Homo sapiens: one gene and its partners. The protein of the gene in region 3 purifies or fractionates together with the protein of the main gene of each other region. This does not show direct contact. Each region holds a gene or a part of one and is shown on either strand. Other genes may lie near its edges.

Region 1 (3,650 bases), on a different chromosome or scaffold from region 3:
CCCTAGACTGGCCCTCAACAACCCATGCTCTAAGATCCTGGAATGCGTCTGGCTTTCCTGCCAGGCTGTGCAGTCCTAGAGGGAAGCGGCCGTGTCTGCGTGCTGCTGGCTCCCGTGTGTGGAAGGGTGACTTTCTCCCAGGCCTCCCTGACCCTCCTGCTCTGTGCTCTTGAGCCCTCTGCCCTTGGCCCTCACAGTACTTATCACCAGGTGTCACTGTACATTTATTTGCATGTTTATTGGTTTAACACAGGGGTCGCAAACTCAAATGCCCACAGGGGCCAGGTTAGGTTAGCGGCTGAAGCAGTCTGGGGAGAGGCAAAAAGCAATGGCAGGGAGGTGGGACAGAGGAATGTGGGCCCCAAACTATGGGGGCAGCTGCTACTCAGTGCCAGCTGTTCGTCGCCATGGGGGGAAGCGGGACCAGAGCCGCCGGGTCTTCGGCTTTTTCAAGAGGACGCATAACTCCGGATTGTTATTTGAACTGTCCTGACTTTGGTAAGACTCTGCAGACCAAACAAAGCACATGTGTGGAATGCGCAGGGCCCCAGGACTACCCGTTTGCGACCCCTGGTTAACAGCTGCCTCCTCACCTAGCCTGGCAGCTCATTCAGAATAGGGACCGTATTTGCATTACTCACCTGCTACTCCCAGTGCCTGATTCAGGGAAAGTGCTCAGTAAATGAGCTGTGGAGCAGAGCTAGGCCTGGCCTTGGGCACCGGGGAGGGGCTTGTTTCCTTGAATAGGGGCCCTGGGCTCATCTCAGCAAGAACCCTGGCACATGCACCTGCAGCCCACACCTCCCTCCTCCCCGGGGTGCTAGCTGGGGCTATGTGGCCAGCTCCTCCAGGGCTCAGGGCTGTCTCTGTGACCCCGGGGAGCTGGGCTGGGCCCACACCTGTGACGGTGACAGTGAAGGAGGCCGACTCATCGTCAATTTCACACAAGTACTCGCCGGAGTCCTCGAGCTGGACAGCGGGCAGCACCAGGCGGCGGACAGTGTCTTCCTTCTGCAGGAGCAGCGCGGGGCTCTCCACCACCTCCTCTCCATCCTTGGTCCAGCGCACCTCTGCCCAGGGCCGGCATAGCTCACAGGTCAGCACCACACGCTCCAGGCGCACGGCTGCCACATACACCTTGCCGCTGGGATACACGATCCACGAGGAGACGTCTGGAGGACAGGGACAGCCACTGCCGGGCATGAGGGGTGTGCCCTGCCGTCCTCCCTGACCCCGTTGTGTTCCCTACCCCTGGAAAGTAGGCCATGTGTTGAAGAGGGACCTTCCTGAGACCAAATCTCACAGCAGCTGACAGTTACTCACAGCTAGAGACACACGAATACAGCTGTCACAAAAGCACAGCAGACTTTCTGCTGCGCAGGAGCTGCACAGAGGGGACCACGGGGTCAGCCTCGGCTGTAGAAACGCTCCACATTCTCTGGGTTGGGACAGGGACGGTATGAAGGGTGGAACTGATGAGAGGAGGGTTGGGGGGAGGAGCTGGGGGTCTCCTCCTCCAAGATGTTTTTGCCCCCCTAGTGCCTGAGACCACCAGCCCTAGACTCTGCCCTACCCTGCAATAGACTCACTGTCCCCAGAGATTTCCCTTGGTACAGGTTTTCAGGAGAATAGAGAAAGCCAGGCTTCCTTAGCCAAGACCAATGTGCTTATGATAACACGTTTCCTGAATGTGACTAGACCATAGCTTGAGGAGAAAGGGAGGAGGTCCGATCTGCCAGGGGGAGGGCAGTAGGGGCGGGGAACAGTGGCCTGGGAGTGAAGGTGTGGCAGCTGTTCCAGTGGGAGCAGGGGCACCTTCCCCTGTGCCTCCGAGGCCCACCTGGCCCCCCACCTGTGATGGTGACAGTGAAGTAGGCACACTCATCTCCAGCGACGCACTGAAACTCGCCCCCGTCTGAGGGCTGGGTGGCGGGCAGCACCAGGCGGCGATGGGGCCCCTCATTCTCCAGCACCACGAAGTCACTCTCCTCCACCTCCTGCCCGTCCTTGTACCAACGCACAGGGGCGTCCTCTCGGTCCACCTCACAGGCCAGCATGACACACTCGGAAGTTATGGCATGCACGAACACATGTTCTCGGGGGTCCACGATGTGCACGGGAGGATCTGGGTGGGAAGCAGAGATGGCATTGCACAGACACCCCCGCACAATGAGTCCAAACTAGCTGTGTGGCCAGGAGACACTGTTTCTGCACAAGAGGACACTGGAGGAGGGCTAAGGTCCTGCTGTGTAGGGACTCAGGGACAATGACAAGGAATGCTGAGGGCATGGCAGGTGAGGCATGGCAGGAGATCATGTGGCACCAGAGTGCTCTGTAGGTCCCCAAAGGATCAGAGGTGGCGGGGTGAGTACATAGAGAGAAGGAAGCACAGAGAGTTCACAGAGTGGCAGCCACCATTTGTCTAGGCTGAAGGGAGGTCACTGTCACAAGTCACATCAGGGCCATGCTTACTGCCTCTATTACGAGAAAGACCCCAGGGTGGGCAGGAGGTGAAGGATGATCCAACAAGTGGCAACAGTGAGACAGCCACTCTCCAGGTAGTGGGTTCCCTGTCACTGGGTGCATTCAGGCAGGGGCCACAGTGTGGAAAACAGGACTCCCACTCAGTGAGATGAGTGGGATCCATGGTTCCCAAGCTGCTCTCTCAGAGAGTCTGCACTTGTTAGGAAAGGATCTTCAGGCTCCACCCTGGATACTGGGGCTCTGGACAGTCCAGGGATTTATAACCAGCTTCCAGGAGCTTCCTAAAGCAGCCAGCCTACGGACTGCCTTGTGAGAACCACGGGGTGACTGCACTCGATGCTTCTGTTTGACTCTATCTGAGGCAGCAGGAACAGAACAATCCTGTGTGTGTCGCCAAGCTATGGTGTGACGGAGGTCACATAACCTCTTACAGCCTCCATTTCTTTGCCTGTGAACTGGAGATATATTGCCCCTCATCGAGTTGTGAAGATTAAATGAAAGAGTGTATATTGAAAATACTTAGCATAGTGCTTGGCTCAGAGTAAGTGTCCAAAAAGTGTTTGCTCCCATCTCTCCTCCCCTTAATTGCATTTTGTTCCCCCACCCAACCCAGCAGAGGCTATGTGGACAGCGAGACAGTGTTAGTGTATCAGGGGTTTAGGAGGCAAAGGCACGCTGTGCGTGGCACACACCTATAATCCCAGCTGCTCAGGAGGCTGAGGAAGGAGGATCGTTTGAGCACAGGAGTTCAAGGCCAGCCTGGGCAACAGTGAGACCCTCATCTTAAAAAAAGAAAGAAAGAAAGAAAGCCAGGCATGGTGGCTCATACCTATAATCCCAGCATTTTAGAAGGCTGAGGCGGGCAGATCATTTGAGGTCAGGGGTGACCTAACCAACATAGTGAAACCGTCTCTACCAAATAATAAAAAAATTAGCTGGGCGTGGTGGCGCGCACCTGTAGTCCCAGCTACTTGGGAGGCTGAGGTGAGAGAATCGCTTTAACCCAGGAGGCGGAGGTTGCAATGAGCTGAGATCACGCCACTGCCCTCCAGCCAGGGCAACAGAGTGAGAGCCTGTCTCCAAAAAAAACAAGAAACAAAAAAGCAAGTGCAGAGTTATCTGAAACATGTCCCCTGGGCCACTGGACTCTCCCTGTAAAGGACTCC
Region 2 (3,650 bases), on a different chromosome or scaffold from region 3:
GAGCCTGAGAATTTGCATTTCACACATGCTGCTGCAGGCCTGGGGAACACTGACAACCACCAAGTTTCAGGGCATGTTACAGCCTTGGGTTTTATTAGCCTAAGGAAGTCAAATGGAATTATAGCAACATAAGCCACGTGGAGTAAATAAAGAAGGCAGCTTGGTAGTAATGTTAGAAGAAATGAATAACTTCAGTTTGAGGCAGAAGGGCTCCAGAAATTTCTCTGTGTTCTGCCCATCTTCTGTCCTTCTAACAAGATATTCGACCCGCAGCTCCTGGGGAAGGTCTTCCGAAGGCAGGCCACTCGCAGAGCGGGCTTCTCTGTGGGCTGATTTCCCCCTTTCTAGTGATTCTTGTGATTCACATCCTGCCTCTGTCACACGTGGCTCCTGCCTGTGGGACAGGCTTCTGCCTTGTTCTCCAAGGGGTGTAGATGCAGCATGAATTTGGGCCTTCACATGTGGTCAGTGGAAACGCTCTAGGAAAGTACGCATGACATGGTACGAGAACTTACTCTACTGAAGTAAAATGCCACACGGTCCCGTATTCGTTAGTCTTATCTCAGCATGTGCTTCTTTGTGAAATGTCCGTTTGTTGTGTGTTACCTGTGCCTATGACCGTTTTCATCTGTGGTGATGTGTCTTTCTCTTCCCCGGCCTTTTGCTGTCTCCCTCAGCTGCTGCAGGCACAGGGCAGCCCCTCGCCCCCTGCCCTTCCCTTGGCCTCGTCCTTCACAGCCCTGCTGCAGGCAGCCTACGAGAGCCAAGCGCTTCGGGACGAGCACATCCAGGTGCAGCTGCAGGCCACCATGCCACACCTGTCCATGCAGCAGGTCCTGCTCGCGGCCAAGCAGGTGTTGCTCTACCTGCGGAGCACTGTGGAGAACTTCGGCCAGGTCAGCGTTGCCCCCATCCTCCACAGGCTTCAGAGCTCTGCCACCAGAGAGCTAAGCCTTCTCTGAGTCGGGCCCACAGCCCAGCACACTCTTGCTCCCTGGAACTCACTGCAGAGGCAGTTTAAGTGCTGTTCTGTCCAGACCTCAGCTGCAAACTCTTCATGTCCCTCAGCCCTGCCCATGGGAGCCAGGTCAGCCTGACTTTGTTTTCAGGGCAGCCTGGTCAAGACAGAGCCCTTCCTACAGTAGAATGGGTTGGCAGCCCTGCCGGGCCTTTGTTTTTTTTGTCACCAAGTCTGGAGTGCAGTGGCGCATCATAGCTCACTACAGCCTTGACCTCAGTGGACTCAAGCCACCCTCCAACCTCTCAGCCTTTCAAGTAGCTGGGACTACAGGCATGCACCACCATTCCCAGCTAATTTTTGTGTTTTTTGAAGAGATGGGTTCTCACCATGTTGGTCAGGCTGGTCTCAAACTCCTGGGCTCACAGTGATCTGCCTGCCTCAGCCTCCCACAGTGCTGGGATTGCAGGCATGAGCCACCGCACCCAGCCCTCCCTCCCTCTTTTTTTTTTTTTTCTGAGACAGAGTTTCGCTCTTGTTGCCCAGGATGGAGTGCAATGGCAGGATCTTGGCTCACTGCAACCTCTGCCTCCCGGGTTCAAGCTGTTGAACCCTCAACAGCAACCCTCAGCTCACTGCAACCGTCAGCCTCCCTAGTAGCTGGGATAACAAGTGCACACCAACACGCCTGGCTAATTTTTGTATTTTTAGTAGAGATGGGGTTTCGCCATGTTGGCCAGGCTGGTCTTGAACTCCTGACCTCAGGTGATATACCCGCCACAGCCTCCCGAAGTGCTGGGATTACAGGCGTGAGCCACTGAGCCTGGCCCAGCCCTCCCTCTTAAGTGTATTAATTTAGTAACTGGCTGATGAATTTCTGTTCCTGATGTGGTTCAAGGGATTTTTAAGTTTTGAGGTGGGCCTGTCCCTTTCAGTTTAGTCAAAACAACCTTTGTGTTTCACCAAGGCTTAGGAAGACACATCTCTTATTTGAGAAATGGCATTGCATTGATGGGTGTCTCACACACTCTGTGAGGAGTTGCCATCTCAGCCTGCCTCCCGAGTCTCCTGCTCTGAAAACACGGGCCCTGGAAGTCACTGCCTGGTAGCTGTGAACCCGTCTCTTCCCTGCTGAGGCTCGTGCTCTTGTCCTCACAGCTGGGCAGAAGTGTGGGCCCGCCCCTCCTGCAGCTCTTCCTGGATCTCCTCAGGCGCCTGGTTGTCCACTGTGAGCAGCTGGATGCCCAGAACCAGCAGAGATGCGAGGCCGCCCGGGCCGAAGCCGACCTCTTCCTGGACATGGAGTCCGTGGCCTCGCTGGAGTTGGCCAATGATCAGGTACCGCCACAGGTTGCCTGGTAGCCTATTCTCAGAGTCATGGGCAGTGGCTTTCTCTTCACTTCTGATTAAAAACAAACATAGGTCCATTGTGGGAAAATTGGGAAATGCAGAAACTACAGCAGAGATCATAAAAACTTCCTGGCACCCGCCCAGCATGCGGTTTAATTTGGGCTTCTCTTTCCTGTTGCTTTTCTGTGTACAGTCACCCTCCCTGCAGACAGCTTTCTCTCACGCTGTGTGAGGTGAGCCTGCTGAGAAACAGTGTGAATAGCTGCAGCTTGTGTTGAGTGAAAGGTGGGCAGCAGGTGCTGCTTTTCACAGGAAATACACACAGGAAATAGACTGCTCTGAGAAGCAGCAGCCTTTCTGTCCTGTTGGGAGTCTTGGGAAGCAGGCTGTTTAATTGGGGCCAAGATGACTATTTCACAGTTTGCCATGTAACCTGTTTTACCGGGTTCAGGAGGCAGACACGTTCCTTGTTGCACAATCTAATTGAAATATACACTTTTTTCCTTTGAGCTCTGAGTTGCCTTTCTGGGAGGTATTTTCTTGGGTGGGACCACCTATTATTAGCCAGTCAGCGTGAGGCAAAGCATTCTCAATATGTAATCGTGCTTTGCTGTTTTTAACTGGTAAAGCTTGAGTGGAGACTGTGATAGGCTCCTCTTTCCTTCCCTAAGAATAAATAAGGAAAGAAAATTTCTTTCTGTCTCTGGGAACTGGTGGAGTGTCGTTGGCGAGGAATCGGTTCAGCAGGGCTGTGAGGAATGACTGAATGAAATTATTCTCTAATCCAGCAAGGGAGCTCAACTGCATTCTGCTCAATGTTTACTCAGTTGGCCAGGTCAGAACTAGTTTGGGGGTTTTGTGGGGTCACTCAAGGCCCAGTCTCCTCCTGACAGTGGAGACAGGATTACTTTCAATTCAGGATCGTAGACACACGGTGGTTTAATCCCAACCCACTTTCCCCGGACACATGGTCTCATCTAAACTGACATCACCCCAGCTGTAAGTAGACACCCCTGTCCCTCAACCAGATTTATCTAGGAGGGCAAGGCCGCTGAGGAGAAGCCAGCAGCTGATTGATCTTACTCACATGGTGGTGTTTCTGCACGGCCCGCCCCCCACACTGAGTGACCATAGAGAGCACTTTTCCCATGCTGGAAATTCACCCAGGCTGGGTTCTTCAGACACGTGCTCGCAAATGTGGGTGGGGCACCAGCCAGGTCACAGTCCAGTCCTTCCGGGGCAGGTGGAGTGTCTCAGGCGATTGTGGTATAACTGGATGACAGCTCTGGCTGGGCTTGGCTGCGATGCCTTGGGCACCCCGAGGGGGGCATGGAAATGTAGG
Region 3 (3,650 bases):
GCTTCCACCTCCCAGGTTCAAGTGATTCTTATGCCTCAGCCTCCCAAGTAGCTGAGACTATAGGTGCCCACCACCATGCCGGGCTAATTTTTGTATTTTCAGTAGAGATGAGGTTTCACCATGTTGGCCAGGCTGATGTTGAACTCCTGGTCTCAAGTAATCTGCCGCCTCAGCCTCCCAAACTGTTAGGATTATAGGCGTGAGCCACCGCACCTGGCCAGAACACTCTATCTCTCTCTCTCTCTTTTTTTTTTTTTTTTTTTTTTTTTGAGACATAGTCTCGCTCTGTCACTCAGGCTGAAGTACAGTGGCATGATGATCTCGGCACACTGCAACATCCACCTCCTAGGTTCAAGCGATTCTCATGCCTCAGCCTCCTGAGTAGCTGGGATTACAGGCAGGTACCACCACGCCCAGAAAATTTTTTGTATTTTTAGTAGAGACAGGGTTTCACCATGTTGCCCAGGCTGGACTCAAACTCCTGAGCCCACACACCTGTGCTAGGATTACAGGCATAAGCCACCACGCCCAGCCAGAACATTCTTTCTTTAAGACATAAAAACTGACAATCATAAAGGAAAAGACTGATGCCAGGTACTACAATAAAATTAAGAACTTCAATCAATCAAAGGCACCAGAGAGAGTAAAAAGATGTTACACGTTAGAAAAAAAGATATTTATACCAAAAAGCTCACGAAAGATTGGCAACTCCTACAAATTATTAAGAAATAAGCAAATCAGTTGAAAAATCAACAAAAGATATGAAGAGGCAAGTTACAATAGTAAACAAAAATGGCCAATCAACACATGAAAAGATGTTCAACCTTATTATTAATCAAAGAAATGTAAAATGAATCCATAATGATATACTATTTAGTGTTCATCAGATTGGCATAAAGTCTGACAGTACTAAGTATTGGCAACGATGTGGAGTAACAGGTATTCTCAAGGCCAATGGGAGTAAAAATTCATTTTGGAAAATAATTTGAAATTAGCTACTAAAGTTGAATATGCACATATTCTACAACCTAGTATCTCTACTCTCAGACATACAATTTAAAAGCACTTCCTAAACTTTATAAGAGATAAACTCATACAATGGAATACTTCATAGCAGTGAAAATAAAACAGGAACCAATGTACACAAATCTTGGAAACACAATGCAGAGTCAAAAAAGTTTACATACGCTATCATTCCAACAATATATACAAGTATTCCATTCATATGAACAAAATTCACATAAAGTAACATTTTTAAATTGGTCAATCCAACCAAAAATTCTGTTATGTAAGATAGATAGTTTACTTGCATGTGCATCATTATAATTGCAAGAAAATAAATTATTCTTCAATCAACAGATCAAGTATGCCAAAACAAAAACAGAGAGAGCATTACACTGTACTTTATATTGAGAGTAACTGACCTATCATCCTTATAACACACTCAGAATGTATGTTTTTCCTGACTAAACAATGGGTTTGAAGAATTCTACCAAACGATCAGTATCAACGAATATGCCATATGAAGGAAACCACATGTTATCAAGATATAGAACAGGTGCCTTTTCTTTTTTTTTAGAGGATTAACATACCAATGATCATCAGCAATCAGCACCCCAGATAACTGAATATCATGGCTTGAGTTTGGTTTATACTTTCCAACTGTAGTTGTTCCTTCTTTTATCATATATAGCAGCATCTCAGATAGTTGTGGATCTTCATTCAGATTAACAAGGTTTGGTAAATGATTGTCCATTTGAAACATAATTCCTGCTTTCTGGTAGAAGTCAGAAAAAGAAATTAATCTTAATCACAGTATGAAATTGTTAAATTCACCTAAAACAAATGGTCTATATTAAACATTAAAACAATTCTATATGAAGTCTCACTAAATTAAAGGTTATTTATTTATTTTTTTATTTTTATTTTTTTGAGACAGAGTCTCGCTGTGTCACCCAGGCTGGAGTGCAGTGGCACGATCTCGGCTCACTGCAACCTCTGCCTCCTGGGTTCAAACGATTCTCCTGCTTCAGCCTCCCAAGTAGCTGAGACTACAGGCGCATGCCACCACGCCCGGCTAATTTTTGTATTTTTAGTAGAGATAGGGTTTCGTCATGTTGATCAGGCTGGTCTCGAACTCCTGACCTCAGGTGATCCACCCGCCTCAGCCTCCCAAAGTGCTGGAATTACAGGCGTGAGCCACCGTGCCCGGCCATAAAGGTTTTTTAGACTCTCTCCTCCTTCCTTAGAATCTCTCCTTTGTGACCTCCCTACCTTCTTTGTCCTTCACCATCCTCAGTCTACTCATACATCAATCTATCATCACCAAATTGTGTCTTCTTATTGACTGACCGTCTTTAGAATAGATCAGTTTGTTTTGTTGCATCTTCATTGCCTTCACCACAGGCCCCTGTCAACTCACACCAAAACTACTGAAGCAGCCTCTTGATCACCGTCAACAGCTTCTGTTTTCAATCCATCTTATATCCTATGCCAGGTTAATTCTCTCGAAAGGGTGCTCTCAAAATGTAAATTCCCTGGTCACTTTTTAACAGCTTCTCACTTCCTACAGGATAAAACTTAATTTCCTTGGCCTGGAAATCAAGTCCTTCATAAACTAATCATAACATATCTTTCCAATTGTATCTCCTTATGATCTCATATAAACTGCTTCCAGTAAAACTGATCTACGTACCCTTTCTAAAGACAACTCAAACTTTTCTACCTTTACTTTCAGAGAATTTTCTCTTCCAAGAATGTGCTCTTCCTTTTCTCTTCCTATTAAAATCTTACCCAAACTTCAAAGCCCATCTCAAATGCCACCTCTTTTATGAGATTGGATTGGCCATGCGCAAGGAATTTTCCCTTCTTCTCCTGAATTCTTATAGTACTCCCCCACTACCAATCACTTGAAATACTTTTCATTACATTAGGTTCAACCATATGAAACTGCCAGTGTTCAACCATGCTTTACCTACAAAAATGGCAATTGCTTATGGCTCAATCTACTGAAATCACATTGCATTTCAGTCTTCTATTTACGTTTTGTAAATCTCTCTCTGGATCACAAGCTCTCTGAGGGATGAAACTGTGTTTAATCACCTTGGCTTCCCCTGTTCCTGAAAAGCATAGACATTTAATATATATTTGTAGAACCAAAGTAAATATAACAAGATGGTTTATTCATACTTTAACTTTCCAACTAGTTTATGGGCTGGCTCTAAGCAACCAGTCTTGATCTTAACATTTCTTTATATTAATTTTCCTTACGGTATTGCTTTGTACAGAGTCAGTATATAGTAAGTATTTGAAACATTAAATTTACATGCATTGGCATATTGGCAATATTTATTTCTTGGCATATTTCTTTTATTTTCTAATCAGTTTAGAAAGTTGAAATAATACCTGTAACTCTTTTGTTTCTTGAAGTTTTCTTTTTTCAGCTTGTTCAAACTTTTCTTTCCACACTCTTTCCAAAGACAAAGAAAATAACAGAGTTAAAAACATCCAGATGTATAAGATTGAGAGTCAAGAGACAATCAATGAAAATTAGGCAACTACCTAGTAATATTTAAAATATGATAATCTGGGAGTGGGCTGCTCTATTCATAAGGAAGGTCGGAAAAATACTCAGTATCCTCTTGAGGTCC

Evidence for each region.
Region 1: the proteins of KIF14 (region 3) and OBSL1 purify together in Homo sapiens (affinity purification with mass spectrometry; 2 studies listed by BioGRID). This does not show direct contact.
Region 2: the proteins of KIF14 (region 3) and URB1 purify together in Homo sapiens (affinity purification with mass spectrometry; 2 studies listed by BioGRID and IntAct, with this or other methods). This does not show direct contact.

Annotation. Positions count from the first base shown.
Region 1 is NC_000002.12:219,561,503-219,565,152, forward strand, and holds part of OBSL1 (obscurin-like protein 1 isoform 1 precursor), read right to left. Parts: intron 2,126-3,650; coding exon 1,853-2,125; intron 1,173-1,852; coding exon 900-1,172; intron 507-899; coding exon of another isoform or gene 382-506; exon of another isoform or gene 220-381; intron 1-219. UniProt on the Homo sapiens protein: Core component of the 3M complex, a complex required to regulate microtubule dynamics and genome integrity. It is unclear how the 3M complex regulates microtubules, it could act by controlling the level of a microtubule stabilizer.
Region 2 is NC_000021.9:32,347,950-32,351,599, reverse strand, and holds part of URB1 (nucleolar pre-ribosomal-associated protein 1), read left to right. Parts: intron 1-677; coding exon 678-896; intron 897-2,116; coding exon 2,117-2,296; intron 2,297-3,650.
Region 3 is NC_000001.11:200,596,645-200,600,294, forward strand, and holds part of KIF14 (kinesin-like protein KIF14), read right to left. Parts: intron 3,470-3,650; coding exon 3,406-3,469; intron 1,778-3,405; coding exon 1,593-1,777; intron 1-1,592. UniProt on the Homo sapiens protein: Microtubule motor protein that binds to microtubules with high affinity through each tubulin heterodimer and has an ATPase activity. Plays a role in many processes like cell division, cytokinesis and also in cell proliferation and apoptosis.